Homo sapiens: one gene and its partners. The protein of the gene in region 3 purifies or fractionates together with the protein of the main gene of each other region. This does not show direct contact. Each region holds a gene or a part of one and is shown on either strand. Other genes may lie near its edges. The genes, in order: MYH14, SLC27A2, UNC45A and MYO9A.

Region 1 (7,892 bases), on a different chromosome or scaffold from region 3:
GTCTGGCCTTTTACATGAAGAAGTTTGCTGACCCCTGGTCTAGAACAATTCTTGGCACACAGTAGGCACTCAAAAAATAATTGTTGCAGAACTGAACCTGTCACTCATCTGTGACCCACACGGGGTTGCTAGCTTGCTCTTGTCTCAGAGCCAGTTCCAGCTCCGAGTCACATGCAGGAAAACAACAGCCCAGCGACCAAAAATAAAATACTGGAACCATTCCAGTCTTTGCTGCAGAGAAAATGCCCAGGCAGGATTGCAGTCAGGACCCATGGCAAAACTTAGCACCCTCTTCCTCCTTTTGCTCTAGTAAGACTCAGGCCCCTTTCCCTCCATCAGGCATGGAAACTGCTCCCTAATTTTTTTTGCTCAAAATTTCCCCCCAAACTCTCTTCCACAAAGCTGCCCTGTCCTTGGTTCTCCCGTCTCTTCCCCTTTCAGCTCCAACTTTTTATCTTCTTTTTCTTTTTTTCTCACCCTGTCTTTTGGTGCTGACAGCTTTTTGTTTTCATCAGCTTAGTTCCTTGCTGGCTTTCCCCACACCTGTGCTGCTCCTTACTCAGATTCTGCATAACGAGGTCACGTCTGGGGGCTGTGCCAGCTGGTGGGAATCCAGCTTCCCTGGAGGCTCAGAATGCCCCCATATTCCCCTTTCCTTTTCCCCGGCACACACCCGTCGTGGTATTCCATCCCCCTTCACTGTCTGGGTTCCCTCTCTGCTGCAGCTGATACCCACAGGACCCACAGAGGGGTCAGCCCTGGACAGCCAAGGACTCACAATTTAATGTGAATGATCCCAGTGCCTGGAGTTCAGAGAGGGATGGCTGACGGGGTGGCCTTGATCCCTGAGATAATGAGTTTGGGGCTTTATCCTGAGGACCTTCTCTGGCAGGCCTGGATGGAGGACAGATGGAGAACTTAGAGGCAGTGGAGTGCCTCCTTTGGACTTGATTTTCTGGGTCTCAGCCTCCCTCTGCTGGCTTTGTGCAGCCCAAGCTCTACAGCCAGACTACATTGATTCGAATTCAGGCTCTGCCACCTTTAAACTGTGCAGACTACATTGATTTGAATGCAGGCTCTGCCACCTTTAAACTGTGCAACCTTGGTCAGCTGTGCCTCAGTGTCCTCATCTGTAAAATGGGTTTGACATTAGAACTTACCACTTAGCGTTATCAGGAGGATTATAGGATTTAGCACACAGAAGGGGCTTAGAACTGTGCCTGGAACACAGTAAGCACTCAATAAATACCAGCAACTTTCAAAATGCTGATACAGCCGTCCACCACATAGAATGCCCTCCGCAAAAGAAAGCTCATTACTATCACTCAGTGATGTCATCAATTACCTCATAGACTGAGCAGAATTGATGACATCTCCAATTATGAGGTCAATTTAGAACCTGGTGGGCATGATGATATCACAAGTTGCCAGGTAAATCTACCTGGGTAATCCCAGGCTAAATCTAGCCCTGGGTAGTGTTGATGACATCACCAGTTACCAGGCAGATTATAGTTAAAATGTGGGTGCCCAGTGCCTTCTTTCCTGTTTGAAATTCTGTTGTGTCCCAGTCCATACTCTTTCCTAGCACCGTTGGGAACAGGACTTTCATGTCTCTGGACCTCAATTTTTCTTTCTTTCTCTTTCTTTCTTTCTTTCTTCTCTCTCTTTTTTTTTTTTTTTTTTTTGAGTTTTTTGTGATAGAGTCTCAGTCTGTCACCCAGGCTGGAGTGCAATGGCACAATCTTGGCTCACTGCAAACTCCACCTCCCGAGCTCAAGCAATTCTCCTGCCTCAGCCTCCCAAGTAGCTGGGACTACAGGCGCCCACTGTCATGCCTGGCTTATTTTTGTATTTTTAGTAGAGATAGGGTTTCACCATGTTGGGTAGGCTGGTCTCAAACTCCTGGCCTCAGGTGATCCTCCCACCTCAGCCCCAAAAATTGCTGGGATTACAGGGGTGAGCCACTGTGCCTGGCGTGGACCTCAGTTTTCTATCCATCAAATGGGGATAATAAAAGCACCAGCCTCGTAGGGTTGTGGAGAGAATCCAATGAGTTAATACATAAAAGGGCAAAATGTCCAGCACACAGTCAGCACTCCATACACAGCAGCACTCATTATCTTTACTGTAGGATGTTTCCATGGAGCACGCTCCAGCCAGAGTGACAGGAGCCCTCAGCTCTGTCTTGGTTAAGACAGATGCCTGCAGGGGCCTGTTTCCTAGGAGTTGGAGCCCAGATCCGCCATTAGCAGTAGTCAGGAGACCCTGGACATGTTGCTAGCCTATAAAGTGGGGTAATGACCATGCCAGCCTCACGGGGCTGGCATGAGGATGCACTGACATAATGACAGTCATGTTTCCAGCACACAATCAGACCTCACAACTGTGAGCTGTGTTATCACTGCGAGTACTCTCAGAAAGGTCCTTTTCTCCCCAGGATGTTGTTTCCCCATCTGCAAAGAAGTGGAAGGTGGCTGTGGCAATCTCAAAGCCATGGCAATCTTGACACTATGACCACAGGGATGGTCCTGTGATTCACCTTTGCTGTTGCTGAGCAAGTGCATTGGGAGTTGGATGCTTGAATCTGTGTCTGCCCTCAGCACCCAACTCCAGCTTCTCTTGTCTCTTTTCTGCCCATCTCTTATCTCCCAACATTTCCTTTCATATTTCTTTGGCTTCTTGCTCGTACGCTAGACTTCGTATGTATATAGTTTCTCTCCTGCATGCTGTTTGTAGGACAATAAATGGCAATAGTCATGATAATCAGTATTTTCTTTTTCTTTTCTTTCTTTTTTTTTTGAGATGGAATCACTCTGCCACCCAGGCTGGAGTGCAGTGGTGCTATCTCCGCTCACTGCAACCTCCGCCTCCTGGGTTCCAGTGATTCTCCTGCCTCAGCCTCCCGAAAAGCTGGGATTACAGGCGTGGGCCACTATGCCTGGATAATTTTTGTATTTTTAGTAGAGACGGGGTTTCACCATGTTGGCCAGGCTGCTCTCGAACTCCTGACTTCAAGTGATCTGCCTGCCTCAGCTTCCCAAAGTGCTGGAATTAGAGGCGTGAGCCACCGCTCCTGGCCAGTACTTTCTTATTCAGCCTTTTCCCTGGTGCCAGGACTGTACTAAGAGCTTTGTAGGCACTAATTCACTTAATCCACTCAATACAAGCACTCATTACCATTTACTCAACAAACACTTATTAAACACCTACTGTGTGCCAGGCACTGAGGATTCGGCACTGAACAAAATAAAGATCTTTGTCCTCGTGGGACTTAAATTCTAGTGAGGAGACAGATGATAAACAGATAAATTAGCAAACACTCCCAGTGCTATGAGAAAAAGCAAAGCGGGGTTAAACGAGAGAGAGTGATGAGAGGAACTGTCTTATATAGGATGGCCAGGAAAGGCCTCTTGGAAGAGGTGATATTGGAGCAGAACGGATGATGTGGGAGAGAGGTTGTCATGCAAAACCTGGGGAAGAGCATTCCTGGTGGACCCAACAGAGAATGCAAAGGCCTTGGGGCAGCACCAGGCCTCCTGGTTTGAGAAATTGAGCCAGTGTAGCTGGAGCAGTATGAAGGGGAGGGCCTGGGGGTGAGATCAGAGAGAGCAAAAGGGCCAGCCACATCCCGCAGGACCTCATTGGCCATGGTGAGTTCTTAGACTTTTACTGAGTGAAATGGGAGCCATGGAAGGCTCTGAACAGAGGAAAGGCCCCATCTGAATAGAGTAGACTGTAGGGAGAGCAAGGGTGAAGGCAGACAGTCCATCACTCCCATTTTACGAGTGCAGAAATAAATGGAATCTCAAAAAAGTCCAGCAACTGGCCTGAGCCCACACAGCTGCTGAGCAGCCGAGCCAAGCTGGCAGGCCTCCTTGGGTTCAGTGGAGCCATTCCTTTGTGCCCTTGGCTCTTTTTATTTTCCTTTTAAATAGAGATGGGGCCTATGTTGCCCAGGCTGGTCTTGACCTCCTGGGCTCAAGTGATCCTCCCACCCTGGCCTCCCAAAGTGTTGGGATTACAGGTGTGAGCCACGGCACCCTTCCAACCTTGGGAAGTCTTTTGGCTCTCCTGAGCCTCAGTTTTCCCATCTGTAAATTGTAAATGGGGAATCATTACCACGTTTGGGCATAGCATGGCGGTTAAAAGCACAACTTCTGGTTGGATCTGAGTCCTTGCTCTGCCATCGGCCAGCTCTGTGACTTTCTGCAATTAACACCCTCTTTCTAAGCTTGGGGTTACCTCATCTAGAAGATGAAGATCTTAATAGCACCAATTTCAAGGGCTTCGTTGTAAGGATTAAATGAGATCATGCAGGTAAGGCGCTTAGCACAGCTCCCGGTCTACATCGAAGTGCTTGATAAACGATCATTGTTATTCCGATAGTATCACGGCCCACACCTCCCCGGTGGGTGAGAGCCTGGGAGGGTGCCTGGTACATGGTCTACGTTCGACAAAAGTGAATTCTGTCTCCTGTCTCTCCTGCCCGCCGGGTCCCGGGGGACCCAGGCATTCCGGCCTTCGGTCGGCCCCCCCACGCCGGCCCTTACAAAGGCCCCCATTCATGCCTTGCGCACAAAGCGGCCCATTCACCCTGGCCCCTTGGGCCTCCCGCCCCCGGCCGCCCCCCGCGCCTCGCTATTGGTGGCGCCCCGTGCCCATCAGGCCTCGGCTTCCACCCCCGACCGCGCCGCCTAGCTCCGCGCCCGGGCCGCGTTCTTTTCCCACGGCTGGCACCCTTCGACAACTTCTGATTGGCCCAGCCCGCCAGCCGCTCTTTTTGATTGGCGGCTCCCGTCCCCCAGGGGCGGGGCCGTAGCTTGCCGCAGCGGGCGCCGATTGGCCTCTGCTGCTCTCTTGGGGGCGGGGCTGTCCTGGCGGACACGCCCCTCTTTCTCCCCAGGCCGAAGCCTCGGGACGGCCCTGGAAGCCGGTGAGTGCCCGGGGCCGGCAGCCCTCCGGGGGCGGCGGAACGGGACTGAGCCAGGGGAAGCTGGAGCCTGGGGGCTGCGATCGGGGCCCGGGAGCCCGGGCAGGCGGCCGGGGACGGCGGGGAGGTGACGCGGACACTCACCTTGGGCGCGCAGCGGGACGGCGGCGAGGGAGGTGGGGGGGCGGGACGTCTACACTCCCCCAACTCCAGTTGCCGCCGTGTGCGAGGCCCGGTCGGGGTCCTCGTTGTCAGCCCCGGGCCTGTTCCGCAGAAGGGGAAACTGAGGCTGTCTTTGGAACCTCGGCCGCTTTAATACCTGAGTCATCGCCTCCAGTCCCCCGCCCCCAGCATGACATGTCTCTGTTCTCACGTGTCAGAATCGGAGGCCAGAGAGAGGGGTCGTGACTGGAAGAGGCGGAGGGGTAGGGAAGGACATATTTGAGAACCTATGATGTACTTGGACGCTTTTATTTTTTATAACTAAATAATTTCCTTTCCTTATCGTGTTGACTCGAGGTGAGTTATATTGTACCCATTATACAGAGAGGGGAAGGCTGAGACTGGGCCGAATTGGTGACTGCAGGGGGACCTGGTGGAGAAGAACACTCCAGAGACCAACTGTGTGCTGGGTCCTTTAACCTTTTCAGTCCCACAGGAGTCCCCTAAGGAAAGCGGTGGTCCCTGTGGCATAGATGGGGAAGCAGGTTGGTAGTAATCACCAACTGGGACGCAGAAATTCATGTCTTTAGGGACCTGCTACAAGTTCTTTCCAGACCCCCTCCTTTAGAATGGCAGAAAACGGTATAGGCTTGAATTCCAGACCTCCCTCTTACGCTGTGTGATCTTGAGTGCCTTACTTTGACCCTTCCTGCCTCAGTTTCCACATCAGAGAAATGGACATGCTGATCACCCCTATGTCATTGGTTGTTGAGGTTATTCTAGGCCGGGCGCAGTGGCTCAGGCCTGTAATCCCAGCACTTTGGGAGGTGGAAGCGAAAGAATCGCTTGAGCCCAGGAGTTCGAGACCAGCTTGGGCAACACAGCGAGACTTCGTCTCTACAAAAAGTAAAAGAGTTAGCCGGGCGTGGTGGCGTGACCCTGCTGTCCCAGCTACTCGGGAGGCTGAGCAGGGAGGATCGGTTGAGCCCAGGAGGTCAAGGCTGCAGTGAGCCATGATCGTGGCATTGCACTCCAAGCTGGGCAACAGAGAGAGACCCTGTCTCTCCCTCTTTTTTTTTTTTTAAATCATTTTATGATCTCAAAGAGCTGTTCTAAGAGGAGAAAATACCCGACACATAGTAGGTACTCTTATCACCATGTAGTCTTTATTTCACTCCCGAGACTGAAGCTCAGGACAGAATACCATTGTCCTCTTCTTTGGTACTCTTACTGTCTATAGATTTTGTTGTTCCCTTCCCGCAGTTGGGAAACTGAGGCTCAGGGAGATTAATGATGAAGCACTGGGCTGGGGAACTTTCTGAACGTCGTTTTATTAATTTCACTGGCCGCAATGCACAGCAGGGAAAGCTGAGGCCCAGGAAGCTCCAGCGGGGTTTGAATCCCGGGAATCCTCAGCCTTCTCCGCGGCGGGCCCTCGACCTTTGCCCTCCATAAGGGGGAGGAGCCCCTGGCGCCGCCGCCGCCGCCGCCCACCTGGCAACAGGCTCAACCCCCGCCTTCCCCCGGCCCCCGTCAGAGGCCCTGAAGCTCCAGGCCCGCCCCGTTCCCAGCCGGGCAGGTGCTGGGTGACATCAGAGCCGGGCTCCCGCCCTGTGACGCGACGGGGCCCCGCCCTGCGCTGGACCGCGGAGGTCGCTGCACCTGAAGAGAACGGGGATTCCCGCGCCCTCACCCCATCTCCCCGCTCCGGTCGGCGCCCCCAGGTAGCCCCGAGGATCTGCGAGTTGAGGGGGCGGCGACACAGGCGCTTGGGTCCAGGGGAATGGGTACGGGGCTCTCAGACTCCTGGATCTGAGAAGGGGCCTTGGGGGCCGGCTGTCCCAGGTCTGAGGAAGGACTGCGCCGCGAGCCCGAACTTCTGGGTCCTGGGGGAGGAAAGGACTGGGGCCAGGACTGCAGAGCTGGGGTCTTAGGGGAGGAGGGGGCTGCAAGCCCGGATTCTGGGGTCTGTAGGAGCAGGGGCTGGGGGCCTGAACTCCTGGGTCTGAGACAGGAGGGCATTGAGTACTGGGACTCCGGAAACCCAGCGCTAGAAGCCAGGGTCAGACGGCTGGATGCCAAGGGCCCCAACCTCTGCCCCAGGGCGGATCCCTGGCTGCTTTTCTTTTTCAAGCCCAGCAGTCTCGGCCCCTCCCAGGGCAGGTGCTTTCACCTGCCCAGGTGACAGTAATTAGCCCTGGCAGAGTGTTCCTGCTGGTTGAGGAAGGGTAGGGCAGTCAGAGAGGCTCGGCCACTTGGAGCCAAGGCCTGCAGGCCCTGCCCGCCCCATCAGGGCTGTGATCCATCTTCAGAACTCAGCATCCTCACCTCTAGCCCGGCTGCAGTGAGGTGAGGGGGCCTGCACTTCCCAATCCATAGGAGGAGGGGGCTGGGGGCTCAGACTCCTGGGTCCTGGGAGAGGAGGAGGCTGGGAGCTCGGACTCCTCAGCCTGGGGAAGGAAAGGGCTGGGGGCTTGGACTCTTGGCTCCAGGGAGGAGAGGCATAGGGCATAGGGTGATTGCAAAAACTCCGAAACCCTTCCTGGTCAAAGGCCACAGGGCTGGTGAGGAAGTGGATGGGGTGGGGTGGGGTGGGTGGGGGTGAGGGTAAAGTCCCAGGGATGGAGTTTGGGTCCGGTGTATCCAGGTCACACTGGAGATATGGGGTGAGCCTTGACGATTTGGGGGCCACGGGGTGGAGAAACTCCCTGCTGCCTTCAGAGTGCAAGGGTCCAGCGTTTGAGGCCTGAGAGCCTCAGGGCCAAGAGTCACTGGAAGCTGGAGCTGCTGGGCTTGGGGA
Region 2 (7,023 bases), about 41 Mb from region 3:
GATGTAGAAAGAAAAAAGAAATTTGAAAGGAAATTCTGGATGTGAATCTACCTGTCAACTATCTAGTTGATATTTAATGTCTTTTATTTTCTTGAGTCTTTTGTAGATATGTTTGGGCCTACATATTTTCTTTTTTCTTTTTTTTTTTTTTGAGATGGAGTCTCACTCTGTCATCCAGGCTGGAGTGCAATGGCGTGATCTCAACTCACTGCAATCTCTGCCTCCTGGGTTCAAGCGGCTCTCCTGCCTCAGCCTCCCGAGTAGCTGGGATTACAGGCGGCTGTCACCATGCCCGGCTAATGTTTGTATTTTTAGTAGAGATGGGGTTTCACCAATTTGGCCAGGCTGGTCTTGAACTCCCAACCTCAAGTGATCCGCCCACCTTGGCCTCCCAAAGTGTTGGGATTACAGGCATGAGCCACTGCCTGGTTGGCCTACATATTTTCTAATGCAAGCATAAAATATCTATCTACCTTTTATAATTTTTATTGTAAAGTCTGCTCATCTATCAATCAGAACATGTAAGCTCCTATAATTCTATTTGTCAAGGTTGGGTTCTCTGAGACTCCGAGATGTGCATGCAGGAGTGCTCTTGGGAATGGGACCTGTGAGGCTGCAAGGGAAGCAGACTGGATAGAGGGAGACATTGAACTGTAATGCAGTCACAACAGAAGTCTCCCTCAGCAGATCCTCTAATCCTAAGGGGACTCTGGACCTGGGATGCCCTTCAGAGTTACCTCCTAAATTAAGGGAGGTAGGCTGTGCCTTCACACCTGCCCATTGACCAGTCCAATGGACTCAGGCTGGGGTGGTGGTGCTTAACCTTGGGCAAAGTGTCTCTCTTCAACCAAGGAGAAGTCCTGGGAGAGGTCTCAGCTGAGAGCTCCCAGCAGCTGAAGAGTGAGTCCGTCAGTCCTAAAGCAGGGATCTGGGTGGCACATCAGAGCATGCACCCACCTCTCTCTTTACTAATAACAAACATTTAAAATTTTCATTTGCATAGAACTGTTGGTATAGTTTTACATACATCACTTCACATAATTTTCATAACAACTCTGTGATATAGATACCAGTAATCTTATTTCTACAAATGAGAAGAGGCTCACCAAGTCAGTGTATGGAGGGTCACATGCAAAATGAAAAGAATCATTCTGGGCTTCTGAGGTTCCCACCTCCTTGTATGAGCCATTCAGATTAAGTTCTAGCAAAGTGCCTTATTTCTTGGAAGAGGCTGGCTGCTTGGCCTTCTGCTCAGTGCTTGTTCAATCATGTGGATCTGCATTTAATGAGTAACATGGATGATCTTTTCTTGAAGAGCAAAACCTCAAGCTTTATTAAAAGTTTGAGTATGAGAAACAGTGGTCACAGAAAGTTGCCTGAAGGGTGTAGAGCAGCTCCATCAGTCGGTTCTTCATCAGTCTAGTTTTAAGTTGTAGACTGAAATAAACCCACAGAGAAAGAGCACACACTTGGGTGTTGAAAAATCAAGTGATTACAACACTACTCCCCCATCCCCTTTAAAGTCTGTTCAAAGAAAATTTTAAAAAATTAAGGTAGCATATTAAGTCTGCCCCTGCCTTTTTTTTTTTTTTTAAGGAAAAAGGAAGAATTTTCTGAATAAACAAGTCCATTGCTAGAAGGCAGAGAGATTGGGTAGGTGGTGAGCTGAATCAATCTTCATTACTAAGGTGTCAGGTGCTCAGGCTAAACCTGCAGCTTTCCAATAGGAAAACATTCAGTCTAGTAGCTTGTTCTGCTACTAGACTGCCTCAGTGAATGAGTAACTGACTGGATTAAACAAAACACCCCAGAAATATTTACCAAGAAGGTAAGGTCCAAAAGGAAGGTAGTGAAAGGAAATGTACTCTGATCATGAAATGGTTGGTTGATGAGCAAGTCAAGCTTGAAGATTTATCTCTTTTCTTCATTCAGAAAAGCAACTGAAATGCAAACTGGTGCTATTAATAACATAGTCCTTGAAGACAACCTAAAAATAGTTCCTAAAATGCCATTTGTAACTGTAATTTTGCATCTCAATCATTGGCAGTTTGGAATGACAGTATTTTGTACAGCAAGATGATGCACATTATAATACTATATATAGAGAGAGAGACATGCATGTGCTCCTCCTTCTTCCCCACACAAATCACCCGGAGGTCATAAAAATGTTTAAGTTCCACCAGGAGTAAGCAAAAATTTAACAAGGAAATACATACTCATTTTACATTTAGGTAATTAAGTAGTAATCTCCTTGATGTTAATTTTTATTTCTCCAAGTTAAAGTTCTTGCTTATATGAACTCTTGCTTTCTAAATAGCCCTGGAATCAAAGGTAATTCCTTATCATGAGTTACCAGGTCACATAAGGCCTTACATAATTGTTAGCATTTGATATCTGTAAGCAACCATGTCATCTTTCTACCAATGATCTACTTCCCTTTTCTCAGAGGCTGTGGGAAGGTCCTTTTCAAATACTAGCACCTATTATATAGAATAATCTGAACTCTATCCTTCTCTTTCAGATTCAATAACAACACCTGATTCAGAGTTTGTTTTTACCTCTTCAGTCCCTGTTTCTGAAGAAAATAAAGTGCATTCCCATATATGCCAGCAAAGTGCTAGTTTTGTTCTTGGATGGAGATGTACAATCACCTCCTTTGCAAGCTTTAGTTAAGAGCAGGGAGAGAAGAAAAATCTTAGAGAATATCTTTAAGCTATCTTTCCTTGGGCTACTAGGCTGGGAATCCCAGCCCTTGGATATATTAATCATTTGGTGTCTGGGTTTCTGTCCTTGTACAGGGTCCTCCACCACCCTACTCACAGGTCCTTTCCAGCCCATCCTGTGCTCACCACCTGCTTACTTGCTGCACTGAGACCCAAGGAGAGCACCGCTGTCCTACCATGTACTGCCAGAGAGCTGGACAGAGTCATTGATTAGGAGGACCTTTGAGAGGTAAGTAAGCCTGTGGTAGGGTAAGGCTGGGCCTGGGGTAGATTGAGTTTAAATGGATTTTTTCACATCTGATTTTGTTACATCATTTTTCAGGCCCTCATGCCCAACCCAGTGGTCCTTAAGCTTCAGGAGAGAAAGCCTGTCACAATCAACCAGAATAATGGAACCCATTAATTCAACAGACATTATCTATCCATTATGTATGTATGTATGTATGTATGTTTGTATGCATCTATCTATCTATCTATCTATCTATCTATCTATCTATCTATCTATTTATCTATCTATCTATCTACCTATCTAGACAGTCTCACTCTGTCATCCCGGCTGGAATGCAGTAGTGTGATCTTGGCTCACTGCAACCTCCACCTCCCAGGTTCAAGTGATTCTTGTGCCTCAGCCTCCGGAGTAGCTGGGATTACGGATGCCCGCCACCATGCCCGACTAATTTTTGTATTTTTAATAGAGACAGGGTTTCGCCATGTTGGCCAGGCTGGTCTCCAACTCCTGAACTCAGGTGATCTGCCCATCTTGGCCTCCCAAAGTGTTGGGATTACAGGCATGAGCCACCGTGCCCTGCCCAACAGACACTTATTGACTGCCTGCCTACTATGTGCTAGACATTACTAGGGAATTATTCAAAGATATATGAGAGAATTCTAAGCCTTTGAGACAAAGTGCATTGAAACAACTCATTTAAGTTACTCCTTGGGCAGTCCAAAGAGTTGGGAAGAGTGTAGATTAGATTATTTCTGTGCCTTGATTCTGGACTAAAGTTGGCATTAGAAAATTAAATATTTCCTTCTGTGGAAGTGAGGCCACTGCTGTTGGCCATTCTTTGGACTCTCTGAGTCCCTATTTTTTCCATTTCCTGTCCCTTCAGGAAACAGCTTAAAAAAATGACTATTATTAGGTCCAGACTGCCATTGTTCTTACATCGCAATATCCTTTAATGAAGCATCTCACTGTTTTAAGCACCTGATCAGAACTGCCTCTGGTGCTCCTTTTGCCTGGAATGCCCCCTCCCCCACTGCATTTGTTCAGCTCAATAGTCAGTGCCCCAAAAAGCCTTCTCTTGACCTCTGCTTGTTTTCCTGCAGCACTTGTAGCCCTCCCAGCACACTGAGCACATTCTACTGGGTGTCACAATCATTTGTGCATGCGGTTTAGTTCTTTTACTGGACTGTAAGATCCTTGAACTAATTCATCTTATTTCTCCATCCCATCATGGCACAGAGAAAACTAGCTTGTACCTTGTTGGGACTCTCTCTCCTTTTTTTTTTTTTTTTGGTGGCCTCTCCTCCCTCTAAATGTTTCTTGCTTTGAAAATCAAATTGTTGTACCATCAGTTTTTCTCAATCTAATCTCAAAAGTTTGGATGACAAGGGTTATCCTTGGTCCCAACACTTGTTTTGTAATGAAGTTCTTCAGTCTTATAGCTTTTAATGATGCAATATTTTTGAAAGCTATTGTAAGCATTTTTCCTTTATCACATTGTTTAAAGGAGGTCAAATTTTGTTTTCTGCAACCTTGCAAAACCAGGTCAAAGGTAATCTGGAACGTTTTATAACTTACCTGGGACTCAGTTTTGCAACAGAGAGTATCTTTAACTGTTACTAAAGCCTTGCATAAGAGTAGTGCCTACACTGTGGGAGCCTCGCATGGCTGTGTTGAGTTAGGCAGTGTATACCCTGCCAGTGAGCTGATGAAGGGACCCTCAGGAGACCTGGGTTATCTACCCAGTGGAAGAGCTAGTTTATTGATGGTCTTGATGCTAGGATAAATGGAAATGGAACAAATGTACAATTTCAGGCCTCTTTTGTAGGTTTTTATAAAATATCCCATATTGTGTGAAATAAAATATGTTTTACTGTTTTACCCATATTCTGTATTTGGAAAGTTGGGTGAAAAACTACTGGCCCAGCCATGTGGCTTTTATTAGTTACAACATTGATACAGGTTCTTATCCTTGGAGACAATTTTCCCATGTGATTACCTAGATCATACCCTGCCCTGGAGAACGATCCTGAAATGTACAACAGAGAGAAAGTCATATTCTCTGGGAAACAGTGCTGCTGCTTGATTCAGGGAAGTGTTTATGAGTCTTGACTTTCTGTAACTATAGTAAAATTGAAAAGAGTAATTGAGTACTGAAATTCCTGATAGGGTTGAGTCCTGTTAAGTGTTATAAAGAAACCCCCAAATTCATAACAACTGGATCAATCCTCATGATAAATGCCTCTGTGCTGGTCCTTTACATATACTGCAGAATTTGACTGACAGATGGAGCTCAAGAGCTCTTACTAGTCCACAAGCCCTGGGCTGAAACTCAAAATATGGAATCAAACTGACATTTATGTATCATGTTCAAGATGGTGTGATAGAATAAACAGTGCCTCGTAAGTGAGAAAAAAATATTTGGGTTCTATCTCTACCTTTCTGTTCCTAACTATCCACTTGATCATGGGCAATTCATATCATCCCTCTAGGCCTTTGTTTATACAGCTATAAGACAATGAGAAGGCCAGTAGCAGTGGCTCACGCCTCTAATCCCAGCACTTTGGGAGGACGAGGCAGGTGGATCACGAGGTCAAGAGATGGAGATCATCCTGGCCAACATGGTGAAACCCCATCTCTACTGATAATAACAAAAATTAGCTGGGCATGGTGGTGGGCATCTGTAGTCCCAGCTACTTGAGGGGCTGAGGTAGGAGAATGGCTTGAACCTGGGAGGCGGAGGTTGCCGTGAGTCGAGATCGCGCCACGGCACCTCCAGCCTGGGCAACAGAGCGAGACTGTCTCAAAAACAAACAAACAAACAAACAAACAAACAACAATGAAAAACAATGGGAAACTAGACTGTTTCTCAAAGCCTAGTCCTCAGACCATTTGTTTCAAAATCACCTAGGGTTGGCGGTGGGGTTTCTTATAAAAATACACATTCCTGGGCCCCAACATAGTCTTACTGAATCAGCATTTTTGGGGATGATCTCAGAAATTTTATTTTTTTGTTTTGAGACAGGGTCTCACTCTATCACCCAGGCCGGAGTGTAGTGGCACAGTCAGAGCTCAGTGCAGCCTCAACCTCCCGGGCTCAAGCAATCCTTTCACCTCAGCCTCCCCAGTAACTGGGACCACAGGTGCTCACCATCATGCCCAGTTAATTTTTGTATTTTTTTTTTTTGTAGAGATGGGGTTTCATCATGTTGCCCAGGCTAGTCTCGAACTTCTGGGCTCAAGTGATCCTCCCTCCTCCACTTCCCAAAGTGCTAGGATTACAGGAGTGAGCCATAGTGTCCAGCCTCAGAATGTTTTTAAAAGTAAGCTTCCGGCCAGGCGTGGTGGCTCACGCCTGTAATCCCAGCACTTTGGGAGGCCAAGGCCGGCAGATCACGAGGTCAGGAGATCAAGACCATCCTGGCTAACACGGTGAAACCCTGCCCCTACTAAAAATACAAAAAATTATCCGGGCGTGGTGGCGGGTGCCTGTAGTCCCAGCTATTCAGGAAGCTGAGGCAGGAGAATGGCGTGAACCAGGGAGGTGGAGCTTGCAGTGAGCCGAGATCACGCCACAGCAGCCTGGCCTGGGCGAAAGAGCGAGATTCCGTCTCAAAAAAAAAAAAAAAAAAAAAAAAAAGTAAGCTTCCTAGGTGATTCTTGGGCTTATTAAAGTTTCTTCTGTAAACTTTTTTTTTTAAAGTATAACACATTCATTAAACTTACAGGATTATAGGGTTAGAATATCTCTAAGGTCCCTTCCAACACCAAAGAATTCTAAGAATCAGTCCATTCAACATATTTTCCCATGGGCATGTTTAGTAAACATGCAACTCTGTGACAGACTGTAATTTTGCTTCATGTGCAAAGGTATCTCAGTGATTTGGAAAAACTGATTTTTTTTCAAATATGTGGCCTCCCTCAGAGGTCAGTTGACGGTCCAGAGAGTGCCTTAGGTCCACTGTAAAGTCTGGTTCACGTTTGAGTTTAATATAGAAATTCCCATATATTCTCTATGTAAACACATAGCTCTATGGCAGACAACTGTTAGCTGGGTGGGAAGAGGGTATCTGG
Region 3 (7,023 bases):
TTGATGGCGTTTGTTGCATTATTGGAACATTGACTTGAGAAAGAACCTCCCTGCGGAGGCCACTTTGGAGCAGGAAGTGGGCCTTGGGGCCACTTTCCCTTTGTTCAGCCTCCAACTAGTCCTCCCCAAGATTACTGTTTCTGCTGGAAACCTTTCATTTCTGCCCCTCCTCAAGGAGTCAGAACTTTTTCGCTAGAATCCCTGGCAACGGGAGGTGAAACAGACTTCCTTACTTGATGTAGTTTTCACAAAGTCTGTGGAAATTCTCCCTCTCCGCATCACACTTGAGGTCATCAAAGAGCTTGCTGAGGAGAATAGAGGCGCTCATGCGGCTGTTTGCGGTCACTGCGAGCTCCCCAGGAGGGTCCTGTAGAGAGCCCCCCACTTCCAAAATCTTTTTCAGACCTGTAAAGACACCCCGCTTAGACAGTAGAACACTAGTTCCAACCCCTACAAGTAAAAGAAACAGGCTTCCTAGGAGATGTGGAGAAAAGCAAGACAAGAAGGCTACAGAGTTCTGACAACTGTGTCCAGGGCAGCCCGGAGAATCTGCTTAGCTGATCTGCTACCTAAGGGAGGCGGCTGTAGGATCGGGAAGGACCTCAGAAGTGAGGCCTGCATGCCAGCCCTGCCCCTGGGGCCAAACGCTCTGGAGCTTTTGAGGTTCCTCATCTGTAAAACTAAGGGGAAAAGAATATCCACACCTCATAGGACCATTGTGAACACGATACCCACACCTCGTAGGACCACTGTGAACACAATAGACACACCTCGTGGGACCACTGTGAACACGATACCCACACCTCGTGGGACCACTGTGAACACGATATCCACACCTCATAGGACCATTGTGAAAGGCCCTGCTCATGCAAGGCCTTTGCAAAGCTTTTCTTATTTATCTTTTTTTTTTTTAAGACAGAGTCGCCCTGTTGCCCAGGCTGGAGAGCAATGGCGCGATCTCGGCTCACTGCAGCCTCCGCCTCCTGAGTTCAAGTGATTCTCCTGCCTCAGCCTCCAGAATAGCTGGGATTACAGGTGCATGCCAGCATGCCTGGCTAATTTTTTGTATCTTTTAGTAGAGACGGGGTTTCACCATGTCGGCCAGGCTGGTCTCAAACTCCTGATCTTGTGGTCTGCCCACCTCGGCCTCCCAAAGTGCTGGGATTATAGGCGTGAGGCACCACGCCCAGCTCTTATTTATCTTTTAGGGGAAAAGAGAGATGAATTGATATATCTACCGTTATTTTTTCCTCTGAGTATAGAAGTAATACATGCTCACTCAAACAAAAAAAAAAAAAAAAAAAAAAAAACAGGGCACAATGGCTCATGACGGTAATCCCAACACTTTGGGAGACCAAGGTGGGTGCATTGTTTGAGGTCAGGAGTTCGAGACCAGCCTGGCCAACATGGTGAGATTCTATCTCTACTACAACTACAAGAATTAGCCGGGCATACTGATGCGTGCCTATAATCCCAGCTACTCGGGAGGCTAAAGCAGGAGATTTGCTTGAACCCGGGAAACGGAGGCTGCAGTGAGCTGAGATCGCGCCACTGCACTCCAGCCTGGGCGACAGAGTGAGACTCTGTCTCAAAAAAAAAAAAATACAGAAAGCTAATCCAGCCTCTCTGCTAACCTGCTTGCAGGCCCGCTCAATGTGCATGTATGTGCACACGCATATGATAGAAGAGTCTAACTTTGAGCCCCCTAAGGGTAGCTCTTGTGTCTAGAAGGTGTTGTAAGAGCTGAATCCCATTGCTCTGGAAGATCTTCTCAGCTCCAGCATCCTCCTGGGCCACAGGACGCACTTCAGTGCAGACACGTGGCTGGAGATAATCACAACTTTTCTTTCTTTTTTTTTTTTTTTTTTTTGAGACAGTCTCCCTCTGTTGCCCAGTCTGTAGTGCAGTGGTACAATCACAGCTCACTGAAGACTTGACTTCCCAGGGTTAAGTAATTCTCCCACCTCAGCCTCTGGAGTAGCTAGGACTGCCGATGCACACCACCATGCCCAGCTAATTTTTTTTAATTTTTCATAGAGACAGGGTCTCGCTATGTTGCCCAGGCTGATCTCAAACTCCCGGCTTCAAGTGACCCCCTGCCTCTCAAAGTGTGTCATCCACCATGCCTGGCCCCACTCACAACTTTTCTTATTACTCCTAAGAATAAACAAACTTCAGCTGCTGAAGCAAGTTTTTGTGAACTATATCACCTACCTTGGTCGATGACCCAGAGGGTGAGGCTGTTGTTGGGGTCCTTGAGAGACTTCCGGGGCACCGCTTTAATCAGGAGGGTCAGGGCATTGTCTCGGCCTTGGCCAGAGACCCCCACCTCTGTCAGCAGATCTAAGAGGTTACTGATGAGGACCTTCAGCTCCCGGGCAGGATCTGGCAACAACAAGAAGACATCAGTGGGCTCCACAGCAGCCCAGCCCAGTTTGACCCTTCAACTTCTCCAACAAACCAGGGAGACACAGGGAAGGGGGGATCCGCATCCCAGGCTCCAGACTGAGCTCCAGCTTTGTCCTGAGGCACCTTGGTTGCTGAGAATCTAGAGTAAAATAATGTCACCAAACCGTATTCCAAACAACCTGCAGCTGCAAGTCTGGTCCCCAAAAAACTGGCCTGGCTGGCTCAGCCCCATCCCTTCCATGACAGTAACGTCCAAAAGACCCCAGACCTGCTTCCACTCACCCACAATGATGGCACCTTCTTTGCCTCGGAAGCCTTTTTTGACACCTTCCTTGAGGGCATCAAACATAACCTGCAGCAGGTGGCAGGCAGCCAGGGACACAGCCTGGCTTTCCACGCCCAGGATGGAGACTACTCGCCGAGTTCCCAGTATGCTCAGGGTTGCCACTGTCTGGGGTGGGAGAGGTAAACAGAAGGAAGCTTCCAGTTGTTGAAGGGCAGCCACAGAGATCCCTAACTGTGAGTTAGAGGATACGGCCAGAAGGAGAGAATTGGGTGGAAGGCCCAGCTCCAGGTGAAAACAACACAGAATGGATGGCATGACCCAGGGTAATGGCAGGATAATTTTGTTAGAAAGATTTCCTAAAGGAGACATTACACGGCAATGCCCTACTACCTCTCCTTGGTGCCAGAGAAGACATAGTATACTGCAGCCCTGGGAGCAGCTGCCTTAGCTCATGCCTCCCCAAGAAAAAGACCTATACCTAGACGAAGCTACCTGACCACCAGGCTTAATGGTCTAGTTCTTCCCCAGTCTAAACCCTGAGGTTCTTTCCACACCCTGGGGATGTGGACGTCACGTACACGGAATGGGCCCGTGAGACCTCTCCACCCAGTTTCTTTCTTTTTTCTTTTTTTTTTTTTTTTTTGAGACGGAGTCTTGCTCTGTCGCCCAGGCTGGAGTGCAGTAGCGCGATCTGGGCTCACTGCAAGCTCCACCTCCCAGGTTCACGCCATTTCCCTGCCTCAGCCTCCTGAGTAACTGGGATTACAGGCGCCCGCCACCGCACCCGGCTAATTTTTTGTATTTTTAGTAGAGACGGGGTTTCACCGTGTTAGCCAGGATTGTCTCAATCTCCTGACCTCGTGATCTGCCCGCCTCGGCCTTCCAAAGTGCTGGGATTACAGGCATGAGCCACCGCGCCGGGCCCTCTCCACCCTGTTTCTAAGCTGGAGAACCCTAGAAGGCCTGCTTGGTCCACTGAGCCCAAATCCTGACTGCTTCCACTTAGCAGCTAAGTGTCCTTGGCCAAGACTGTGAACTGGAATGGACCGGAAGGCAGGAGGGAACAGAATGCACATGCTTTTAACAGTCTTAGCCTTGGGAGACCCAGAATGCAGCCCAAGCTTAGCCTAAAGAGATTTCATTGACTATTTCACAGTTTCACCCCTATCTAGGAATTGTGGGCTCCTCTAAAAGCAACCAAGGGCCTAGTCTTTGGTCCCCTCTCCCCTGGAGCAAGCCAGCTCAGGTAAGAGCTGGGGGCATGGACTTCACCACACTGGCCCAGGAGCAGGACTGTTATTGCTGCACTGTCCATGCTGGGCCACCACCATCCATGCTGAGAATCATGTCGGGATCAAGCCCTACGTGTCCGGTCACTGTCTCGATGGTAGATGCTGTGGTGGCCAGGCACATTCTGGGCCATGAGCTTGCTTGTGCCATATGGACATTGAAGGAGTCAGTGACCAATGTGTTTTTGTGAGTTGGCTGCAGGAAAGCTGGGGCTCACACTTGTAAGCCCCCTACAAAGCAAGTGCTTGGGGTACCCCAAGGCTGTTTTTGCTCTTTCTACCCCACTTCATCCTAATTTATGTTGGTCTTTTTCACGCCATTTTTATTTTTTCTCTCTTGTTACATGTATCTCCTTGTACTCTGCCTTTTCTTTTTTTGTTGTTTTGTTTTGTTTTGTTTCTGAGATAGTCTCGCTCTGTCACCCAGGCTGGAGTGCAGTGGCGCGATCTCAGCTCACCACAACCTCCACCTCCTGGGTTCAAGCAAGTCTCGTGCCTCAGCCTCCTGAGTAGCTGGGATTACAGGCGTGCACTACCATGCCCGGCTAATTTTTTTATTTTTAGTAGAGACAGGGTTTCGCCTTGTTGGCCAGGCTGGTCTTGAACTCCTGACCTCAAGTGATCCACCTGCCTCAGCCCCCCAAAGTGCTGGGATTACAGGTGTGAGGCACCATAACCTACCTAAGTTCTTTTTAGAATAAGGTAAGGGGTAGAGGGTGGAAGAGTGGATGGATGGATGGACGGGCAGATGGGCGGATGGACAGATGGGTGGATGGAGGAATGGATGGACAGACAGACAAAGGGACTGAAGCTGTAACCAGCCTCTCCACTCCACCTACCCGTGACTGATGCTCAGAGCAAATGCCAACCAGCGTACGCAGAGCCGCCAGCATGAGGTCAGTCTCTCCCATGTCCAGTAAACGTTGCAAGAGCTGAACCCCATTACTCCGGAAGATCTTCTCCGCTCCAGCATCCTCCCTGGCCAGCACCACCAGGTTCTGAGAAGCCTGCGTCAAAGGAAGCACATTATAATGTTGACACTGCACACGGCATAGGATGCAGCACTGGTGAGCAGGGGCCCCGAGCCCTGGACCTCTCTGCTTCCACTTCACAGTTGAGTGACCACGGCCAAAAAATAACCTCTTTGAAGTTTAGCTTCCTCTGTAAATAGAGGGAAGAGCCTTCTCTCGGGATTGATGGTTAGAGCAAATGAGTCCCCAGCAGAGCCTGAGGGGCTGGGACAGTGCCTCAGTTACCTCTGTACACCCAGTTCCTGGCACAGGGCGTGGCCAACAAGGTACTCTGTGAACACTGGTTCTCTTTCCTTGGTTCACGCTAAAGCCCCAGACCCTCAGAGCTCCCATCCAGGCCCCGTGAGCCCAGCTGCACGATTGGAGGAGCGGCAGAGCAAGGCAGCAGTGGCTTCGGGGGCCTATGGATGGGTGGCTCTAGTGGGAGCTCACTCACTGACTCAGCCCAGGGCCTATACCTTTTGCTTTTTCTCAGTGCCCTTCTCTTCTGGGTCCAACAGTATCTGAAACATCTGTTCCACTTTGGCATCCGTCGAGGACATGTATCGCACCTAGACAAACCAACAAAGCATGGAACAAATCACGGCTCTTGGCCAGAGACATCACACTCCCTATTCATTTGTCTCCAGCTCCTCACTCTGGGAGGCACAGTAAAGATGTCCAGGCTCAGGGCTAGCACCTAGCTACCCTGGGCAGGAAGAGACTTGCCTGGCAGTGCCTCCTAAATTTCCCGCACCTGTTTTTCTTTCTGAGCTATTTCCTGCTTGGGCAGCAGGGGCTGCGCCGATGCTGGAGTGCCTTTTCGGAGGGGAGGTATCCTGTCAGCTACGAGGCAACCCACTCCCAGTGGTGCCATCTACATTGTGGCAGCGTGAATGGGCTTCCCATGGCACTGAACTCAGCATTTATACCTCCTGCCAGGGAGCTGGCAGATCGTGAGGTAGTTGCTAACACTTCCTTTAGCTCCAGAATTCTCTTTTCACTGTTTTAAAAATAATCTGAGCTGGGCGCAGTGGCTCCCGCCTGTAATCCCAAAACTTTAGGAGGCCAAGGCAGGTGGATCACCTGAGGTCAGGAGTTCAAGACTAGCCTGGCCAACAAGGTGAAACCCCATCTCTACTAAAAATACAAAAAATTAGCCGGGCGTGGTGGCAGATGCCGGTAATCCCAGCTACTCGGGAGGCTGAGGCAGGAGAATCACTTGAACCCAAGATGCGGAAGTTGCAGTGAGCCGAGATCACGCCACTGCACTCTAACCTGGGCAATAACTGTGAAACTCTGTCTCAAAAAAATAAATAAATAAAATCTGAAGCCAGGCACGGTGGCTCACGCCTGTAATCCCAACACTTTGGGAGGCCGAGGTGGGCAGATCACCTGAGGTCAGGAGTTTGAGACCAGCCTGGCCAACATGGTGAAACCCCGTCTCTACTAAAAATATAAAAATTAGCCAGGTGTGGTGGCGGGTGCCTGTAATCCCAGCTACTCGGGAGGCTGAAGCAGGAGAATCGCTTGAATCTGGGAGGTGGAGGTTGCAGTCAGCAGAGATCCACTGCACTCCAGCCTGGGTGACAGGATAAGACTGTCTCAAAACAAACAAATAAATAAATAAATAAATAATCTGAATGGGGAAGATCATCCTAGGCCTACTCCCCCACCCCCCAGAGTCCTGGGCATAGATGGTGGCACAAGCCTAGCATGTGGACCACCCGCCTTCCTCTCTTGCATCCATGGCAGCCATGACTAACCAGTCATGGCACGTTCCCCTGCTTGGCTCAGGCAATCTGCTTCCTAATTCTTCTCAACATAGGACTCTGGGCAGCCACTGCCAATCAGAGTTGGCATTGAGAGAGGAAACCTATTTGCTTTCCCAGGCTTCAACATTTCAGTGAGGTGTCTGCCATCATGTTATCTGCTTCCACTGTGTCAGCATTTTAACGTCAAATTATCTGGCGAATTTGAGCTTGGTTGTAGCTCATAATGGTCTTTAGATTCTTTTCTCCTAATTTAA
Region 4 (7,023 bases), about 19 Mb from region 3:
TCCCTGCAGCTGGTTGTCCCATCATCTTCTCAACTCCCGGCAGAGAGGAGACCCTGGGGTGGGCACCTTTTCTCTGCAACTGGCAGGTGGTTGTCTCCCCAAGTCTGGCTGAGTTCAGGCTTTTATAGGTCTCAGCAGGGAGGGTGTGTGTACTGATTGGTTCATTGACAACCATGGGTGAGCCTGGAGAAAGCACCACAAGTTCCCACTCTGGTCATCGGGTGCCAATGGAAAGCCTGGTCCCCAGGCTTCAGGCCTTCCCTGGCTTGAAGGTGGGGTTTCACCAGGGACCTGCCTCCTTTTGCCCAGGAGCCTGCCTGCCTCCTCCTGCTGTTCATGGTGCCCAGGCTGTTTGTGACAGGGGGTGCCTACAGGTACTGAGCTGCCCTCAGTACCCCCTCAGCCTCCCTCTAGTGTTTGTAGGCACCCAAAGTTTAGAGGGGGCCAAGGTGGCAGGGGGCTGGTGTATCAGTGCTATCTGGAGCGTGTGCACACTTGGCCAGGCTGTGACAGTGCCCAGTCTCGGACCCAACCTTTCTCTGAGATTGGAGTGGGTGCTGGGAGTGAGGAGAGGCCAGGCAGTGGGAGCAAACACCTCTGAGCCTGCAGGGACTGGGCGGGGGGCCTTCCTGGGCCTCTGAGAGTGCAGACATGCCTGGGTCTGCAGCTGCAGCTTGGGCGGCTGCAGCTGTGCCTGGGAGGGTGGGGCTCCTGCCTGCTCCCATCCCCCAAGAGCACAGTGATGCCTGGGTCTGCAGCCCACCTGGGCAGGTGGCCGCAGCTGCACCTAGGGAGCACGAAACTCCTGCCCTGTCAACTCAGAAGGTGGCAGGGTTCCCACCTGTTCCTGGCTTCTGCTGCCTCCATGGAGCACGCAGTCCTGGCTGCACCTCCCCCACTGCAGCTGGTATCATGGCAGTGGCCGCTATAGATGGGCCGCTGCTGCCATCGGTGGCATGCACTTACAGTCCCAGCTACTCGGGAGACTGAGGCAGGAGGATCACTTGAGTCCAGAAGGTTGAGGCTGCAGTGAGCCATGATTGTGCCATTGTACTCCAGCCTGCATGACAGAGACAGACCCTGGCTCTATAAAACAAAAACAAATACAAAAACAAAACAAAACAACAACAAAATAAAGTGAGTTAATGGAAAAGGAGCTGTAGGAGTGAGTCAGAAAAAGAGCAAGACTATCAGGAAGACTACAAGAAAAATAACTATGTGAGTACACTTTCAAGAACTAGAAATTGGCTGCTTTAGTCATGCCATAGTGTGGTGTGTTAAAATGAAGAATGAGGAAAGACCTTTGGATTACCAACTCTGTGGAATTTTGTGACTTCTCCGGAGCATTGTCAAGTAGCTTGCTATGTGGGAAGAGTGGTAAGGGAGTAGAAAGTGAGTTCCCAAATATTTGGGAATATGGTGATTTTCAAATACTATTTTCTGGACCAGCAATAACAGAATTACCTGCATTTCCTCAACTCATAACTATTGTTGAGCCTGGTAATGTACATTTAAAAAAAAATTTTGTTTGTTTGTTTGTTTATTTATTTATTTATTTATTTAGAGACGGAGTCTTGCTCTGTCACCCAGGCTGGAGTGCAGTGGCATGATCTTGGCTCACTGCAAGCTCTGCCTCCAGGGTCCACGCCATTCTCCTGCCTCAGCCTCCGGAGTAGCTGGGGCTGCAGGTGCCCACCACCATGCCTGGCTAATTTTTGTATTTTCAGTAGAGATGGGGTTTCACCATGTTAGCCAGGATGGTCCTGATCTCCTGACCTCGTGATCTATCCGCCTCGGCCTCCCAAAGTGCTGGGATTACAGGTGTGAGCCACCGCACCCGGCTGGTAATGTACGTTTTGAAAAAGCTCCCCAGATGATTTTGATGAAAGCTCATGTCTCGGATTTGCAAGTACAGATTTTCCAAGCTGTTTAGTAAGGACTGGCTTGTGATCAAGATGGATTTCTGAGTGGTATTTTGAGACAAACCCTCCTTTTTGTAAAAAAAAAAACAAAACAAAAAAACCCACAAAGCAGTAATTGATAAAATAACAAAGATAAAACCAAACTGACAAAACTAGGACTCAAAAAAGGTAAACACTTCTGTTTCAGGAAGGAGCAGGTGTGATTTTGGCTGCTTTGAAGTAATGGGGAAGTGTAATTAGAGTTGGGCTTATTGTTGGAAACAGTGGTCCAAGATAGGACTCCTGTTAAAAAAGATGTTTCTAAGTTTACTTCCAGGGCTGCCATATTATACAACTTTAGGGATTAGATTGTAGTTACTTAGTACAGTGGTCTTTAACCTTTTTGGCACCAGGGACTGGTTTCATAGATGAAAATTTTTCCACAGATGGGGTAGTAGGGGATGGTTTTGGGATGAAACTATTCTGCCTCAGATCATCAGGTATTAGATGATTAGTTAGATTCTCTGGCATTAGTTAGATTCTCATAAGGAGCATGCAGTTTAGATCCCTTGCATATGCAGTTCACAATAGTGCTTAATGCTTCTATGACAATCTCATGCTGCTGACGATCTGACAGGAGGCAGAGCCCAGGCAGTAATGCTTACTTGCCTGCTGCTCATCTTCTGCTGTGCGGCCCAGTTTCTGACAGGCCATGGACTGGCACTGGTCCATGGCCCAGAGGTTGGGGACCCCTTAACTTAGTACATCTCCTGGAGTGGTACAGGTCACAGCCTCCCTGGCTGTAAGAAGATTTGCTGCTGACTGCTGCCAGATGCCATAGCGTATATGAAGCAAACACTTAGGGATTCAGGAAAGCAAACATAGCTATACAACTAGGAACCTGGTAACTCAGAGTATATCCTCACTGTTATTGCAGAGCAGAATCTCCAGCTAGACTATCTGTAAGAAAAATATTTATGAGATAACTGAGGAAATTTGGAAATTTGAATATCAATTGATCATTTAATACCAAAATTTTTAATTTTTAAAAATATATTTATGATACTGTAGTTCTCTTAAAAAAGTAGTAAACATGTTCTCAGTAAGTGTTTGTATGAAAAACAAAAGAAGTTCCATCAAAAGTGCACTTGTAAAGCTAAATTCTCAAATATATGAACTCATCTCATGCTAAGGAAGATATGAAATAACCATAAGAGCAGTTCCGTCTGGATGACATTTCAGTGTTAGTCTGAAAAATATTAAATTACATACTGAGGGTTTTCAAAAAGAAAAGGAGTAATAGCCCTTAAGTATAAATAATTTTGAAATGTAAATCGGCGGAAAAAAGATGAGGTGGATTTGAAAATGACAAAAACTTTAGAAGTGAAAAATATAGTTGTAATTTTTAAAAGCCAACAGCATGGTGTTCATGAATGAGAAGAGTCAATTAGATGTCAGTTCTGTCCAATATTAATCTGTAAAGTCAATGCAGTATTAAAATCTGAAAAGGTTTTTTTTCACGATAGTAAACATGCAAACTTAAACATTTTTATGGTAGTGTAAATAGCCAAGGTAAAATTTGTAAAGAACAACACATTAAGGTAATGTGCCCTTCAGATACCAAAATTTATTATAGGACTGTAGTAATTAACAGAGGTTCAGGGGTGGAAAAATAGACCTATGGAACAGACTATAGAGCCCAGAACAGATTGATAGGTACAGATCCATAGATGGAATCTATTTTCAGTATGCTATGAGATAGGACTGTTAATTTTCTTCACTCCAACTCAGATTAGCAATTGAACCAGTACCACAGTGAATAGTTTGTCCTTTCCTCACTAGTTTATTTCTTTTTTAATTTTTTTTTTTTTTGAGACAGTCTCATTCTGTCACCCAGGCTGGAGTGTAGGGGTGCGACCTCAGCTCACTGTAACCTCTGCCTCCCGGGTTCAAGTGATTCTCCTGCCTCAGGCCCCTGAGTAGCTGGGATTACAGGGACGTGCCACCATGCCTGGCTAATTTTGTATTTTTAGTACAGACAGGGTTTCACCATGTTGGCCAGGCTGATCTCGAACTCCTGACCTCAGGTGATCCGCCCGCCTTGGCTTCCCAAAGTGTTGAGATTACAGATATGAGCCACCACTCCTGGCCTATATGGCTGGGTTTTTTTTATATGTTTTGTATTAATCTCTGTGTTTGAAAGACCATCTAGGCAAACAGGAAAAAATAGTTTCTTGATTAGAAGACTTTGACAAATATGTAGTAGTATGAGAGGATAGATAGTACCCTGGGCAACATGGTGAAACCCCATCTCTACTAAAAATACAAAAATTAGCCAGGCAAGGTGGCGCACACCTGTAGTCCCAGCCAGGTTGAGGTGAGAGGATCACCTGAGCCCGGGTGATGGAGGGTGCAGTGAGCCAAGATCATGCCGCTGTACTCTAGCCTGGGTGACAGAACAAGACCCTGTCTCAAAAAAAAAAAAAAAAAAAAAGGAAGTAACTGAAAGTATTTCTTCTTATTATTTTTTTAATAGCACATCATCCTTATATGTTAAAGGATGAAATAAATAAGGTAAATATTGATGACACATGAGAGTAGTTTTTTGGGGGCATATAACTAACTAATGAAGATAAGAAACAGGTTTTATCAGCCCTGGAAAGTGTGTGGGGCATATTTTCTCAGTAGAAGACAGGAATGGAATAAGATAGATGAGGTAAAGATAGGAATAAATTTTGAGTTGGAGAAGCCATTTGAAGGAAATCACTATTTTCTCAGTGAGGTATAAAAGTTGAAATCATTCTTCTAGAAGTGTAATATACTGTATACGAGGTTCGAGAAGATGGGAAGAAAATGCAGAATACTTGTAAGGAATGCAATAAATAAGGTTAGGTAAAAAGATATAATGGTAGCATTGAAGGAAAAAGGGAAGCTGAATAAAATTTGTAGTGGTGCCTAGTTGTATAATTGTGTTAAATTTGCCTAGCAAGTCAGGGGCAGGATTCTTTTGTCACTCTTGCCAAACTCCCTTCTCCTTCCCACCTTGTGGGAGGGAGTGAGTCAGAGCCTAGAATTCCTTGAAAATATATGTCTATCTCCTTAGTTGGTTTCTCTCATCATTTTCTTGGTTTTATGTAATTTCTATGTTTATCTATCTTCTTGCTGTTTTTAACAAATTTTACAAAATTTTTGCTCCATTGTTGGGATGCTTTCTTGTTTTTGCTTTATCCTTAAGAAATTTTGGGTACAGGGCAATTAGATTTGCATGGTTATTCTGTCTTAATCCAGTCTTTGTTAAGTATAAGGAAAGAACTTGGTTCTAATCCCAAGTTCCTTACAAACATTTGAGACAGCAGGGGAAAAATAATTTTTCTTTGTACTCTTTGGATTTTTGTATAATAAAACATTGAAATATATGTTTTTTTTGGCAAGTTACTATTTTAGAAAGTGCCTAGATTTGGACAGTGAAACTTAATATTATGTGGTCTCAATGAAACTGTTGCTGTGCTAAGACAAGAGTTAGTATTTTGTGTTTTAGAAGATGTAATCAACATGCTTGTTAAGCTTTTCTTTCTTGAGCATCAGAAAGCAATGTGTATTTACTTCTAAATATTTTGCATCTTTTATGTTACAGTTATTTTACCAAGAAAATGGTTTGCACGACTTTGAACATATACTATCCATGCTGATGGGACAGGATCCAATATGAATATAAATGATGGAGGAAGACGACGCTTTGAAGATAATGAACATACATTACGGATATATCCTGGGGCTATTTCAGAAGGGACAATCTACTGTCCGATTCCTGCCAGAAAAAACTCCACAGCTGCTGAGGTGATTGAGTCTCTTATAAACAAACTTCATCTTGACAAAACAAAATGTTATGTTCTAGCAGAGGTAAAGGAATTTGGTGGAGAAGAATGGATTCTCAATCCAACAGATTGTCCAGTTCAGCGAATGATGCTGTGGCCCCGAATGGCTCTGGAAAATCGCTTAAGTGGAGAGGACTACCGCTTCCTTCTGAGAGAGAAAAACCTTGATGGATCAATCCATTATGGTAGCCTGCAGTCATGGCTACGGGTAACAGAAGAACGTCGCAGGATGATGGAACGGGGTTTTCTTCCACAGCCTCAACAGAAAGACTTTGATGATTTATGTAGTTTACCTGATTTGAATGAGAAAACTCTCTTAGAAAACCTACGAAATCGCTTTAAGCATGAAAAAATTTATACCTATGTTGGCAGTATTCTAATAGTTATTAACCCATTCAAGTTTCTTCCTATTTATAACCCCAAATATGTCAAAATGTATGATAACCACCAACTGGGAAAACTTGAGCCCCACATTTATGCTGTGGCTGATGTAGCTTATCATGCCATGCTTCAGCGCAAAAAGAATCAGTGCATCGTGATTTCAGGAGAGAGTGGTTCTGGGAAGACTCAAAGCACAAACTTTCTTATTCACCACCTTACTGCTCTCAGTCAGAAAGGATTTGCCAGTGGAGTAGAACAGATTATTCTTGGAGCTGGACCAGTACTTGAGGTAAATATATAGAAATCTTATTTTTGATTTTAATTTTGATTTTTATCCTTTGAGGTGGGGGGGTGTACCATTCCTGGAGGTACTGCAATACCAGGTCGATGTGTGGAGTAGATCAAGCAAGATACTGTTCCATCTCCCAGCTCCAAAAACTCATTTAGGGCTGGGCGCAATGGCTCATGCCTGTAATCCCAGCACTTTGGGAGGCCTAGGTGGGTGGATCACCTGAGGTCAGGAGTTCCAGACCAGCCTGACCAACATGGAGAAACCTGTCTCTACTAAAAATACAAAAAAAATTAGCCAGGCGTGGTGGTGCATGCCTGTAATCCTAGCTACTCGGGAGGCTGAGGCAGGAGAATTGTTTGAACCTGGGAGGCAGAGGTTGTGGTGAGCTGAGATCATGCCATTGCACTCTAGCCTGGGCAACAAGAGCGAAAATCCATCTCAAAAAAAAAAAAAATTGTCTTTGGATAGAAGACATTTCAGATATTAAACTATAAAAACATAACTGTACTTGATCTTAGCCAAAAGGCTGAGAAGCTATAGAAATACTGTTCTTGCTATTCTGGGCACACTGCCT

Evidence for each region.
Region 1: the proteins of UNC45A (region 3) and MYH14 purify together in Homo sapiens (affinity purification with mass spectrometry; 2 studies listed by BioGRID and IntAct, with this or other methods). This does not show direct contact.
Region 2: the proteins of UNC45A (region 3) and SLC27A2 purify together in Homo sapiens (affinity purification with mass spectrometry; 2 studies listed by BioGRID and IntAct, with this or other methods). This does not show direct contact.
Region 4: the proteins of UNC45A (region 3) and MYO9A purify together in Homo sapiens (affinity purification with mass spectrometry; 2 studies listed by BioGRID and IntAct, with this or other methods). This does not show direct contact.

The regions. Positions count from the first base shown.
Region 1 is NC_000019.10:50,198,739-50,206,630, forward strand, and holds the start of MYH14 (myosin-14), read left to right. Parts: upstream 1-4,883; 5' UTR 4,884-4,933; intron 4,934-5,074; exon of another isoform or gene 5,075-5,238; intron 5,239-7,892. UniProt on the Homo sapiens protein: Cellular myosin that appears to play a role in cytokinesis, cell shape, and specialized functions such as secretion and capping.
Region 2 is NC_000015.10:50,185,188-50,192,210, reverse strand, and holds part of SLC27A2 (long-chain fatty acid transport protein 2), read right to left. Parts: intron 1-7,023. UniProt on the Homo sapiens protein: Mediates the import of long-chain fatty acids (LCFA) into the cell by facilitating their transport across cell membranes, playing an important role in hepatic fatty acid uptake.
Region 3 is NC_000015.10:90,938,274-90,945,296, reverse strand, and holds part of UNC45A (protein unc-45 homolog A), read right to left. Parts: intron 5,567-7,023; coding exon 5,474-5,566; intron 4,992-5,473; coding exon 4,824-4,991; intron 2,861-4,823; coding exon 2,692-2,860; intron 2,386-2,691; coding exon 2,215-2,385; intron 406-2,214; coding exon 234-405; intron 1-233.
Region 4 is NC_000015.10:72,045,147-72,052,169, reverse strand, and holds part of MYO9A (unconventional myosin-IXa), read left to right. Parts: intron 1-5,535; 5' UTR 5,536-5,606; coding exon 5,607-6,446; intron 6,447-7,023. UniProt on the Homo sapiens protein: Myosins are actin-based motor molecules with ATPase activity. Unconventional myosins serve in intracellular movements. Regulates Rho by stimulating it's GTPase activity in neurons.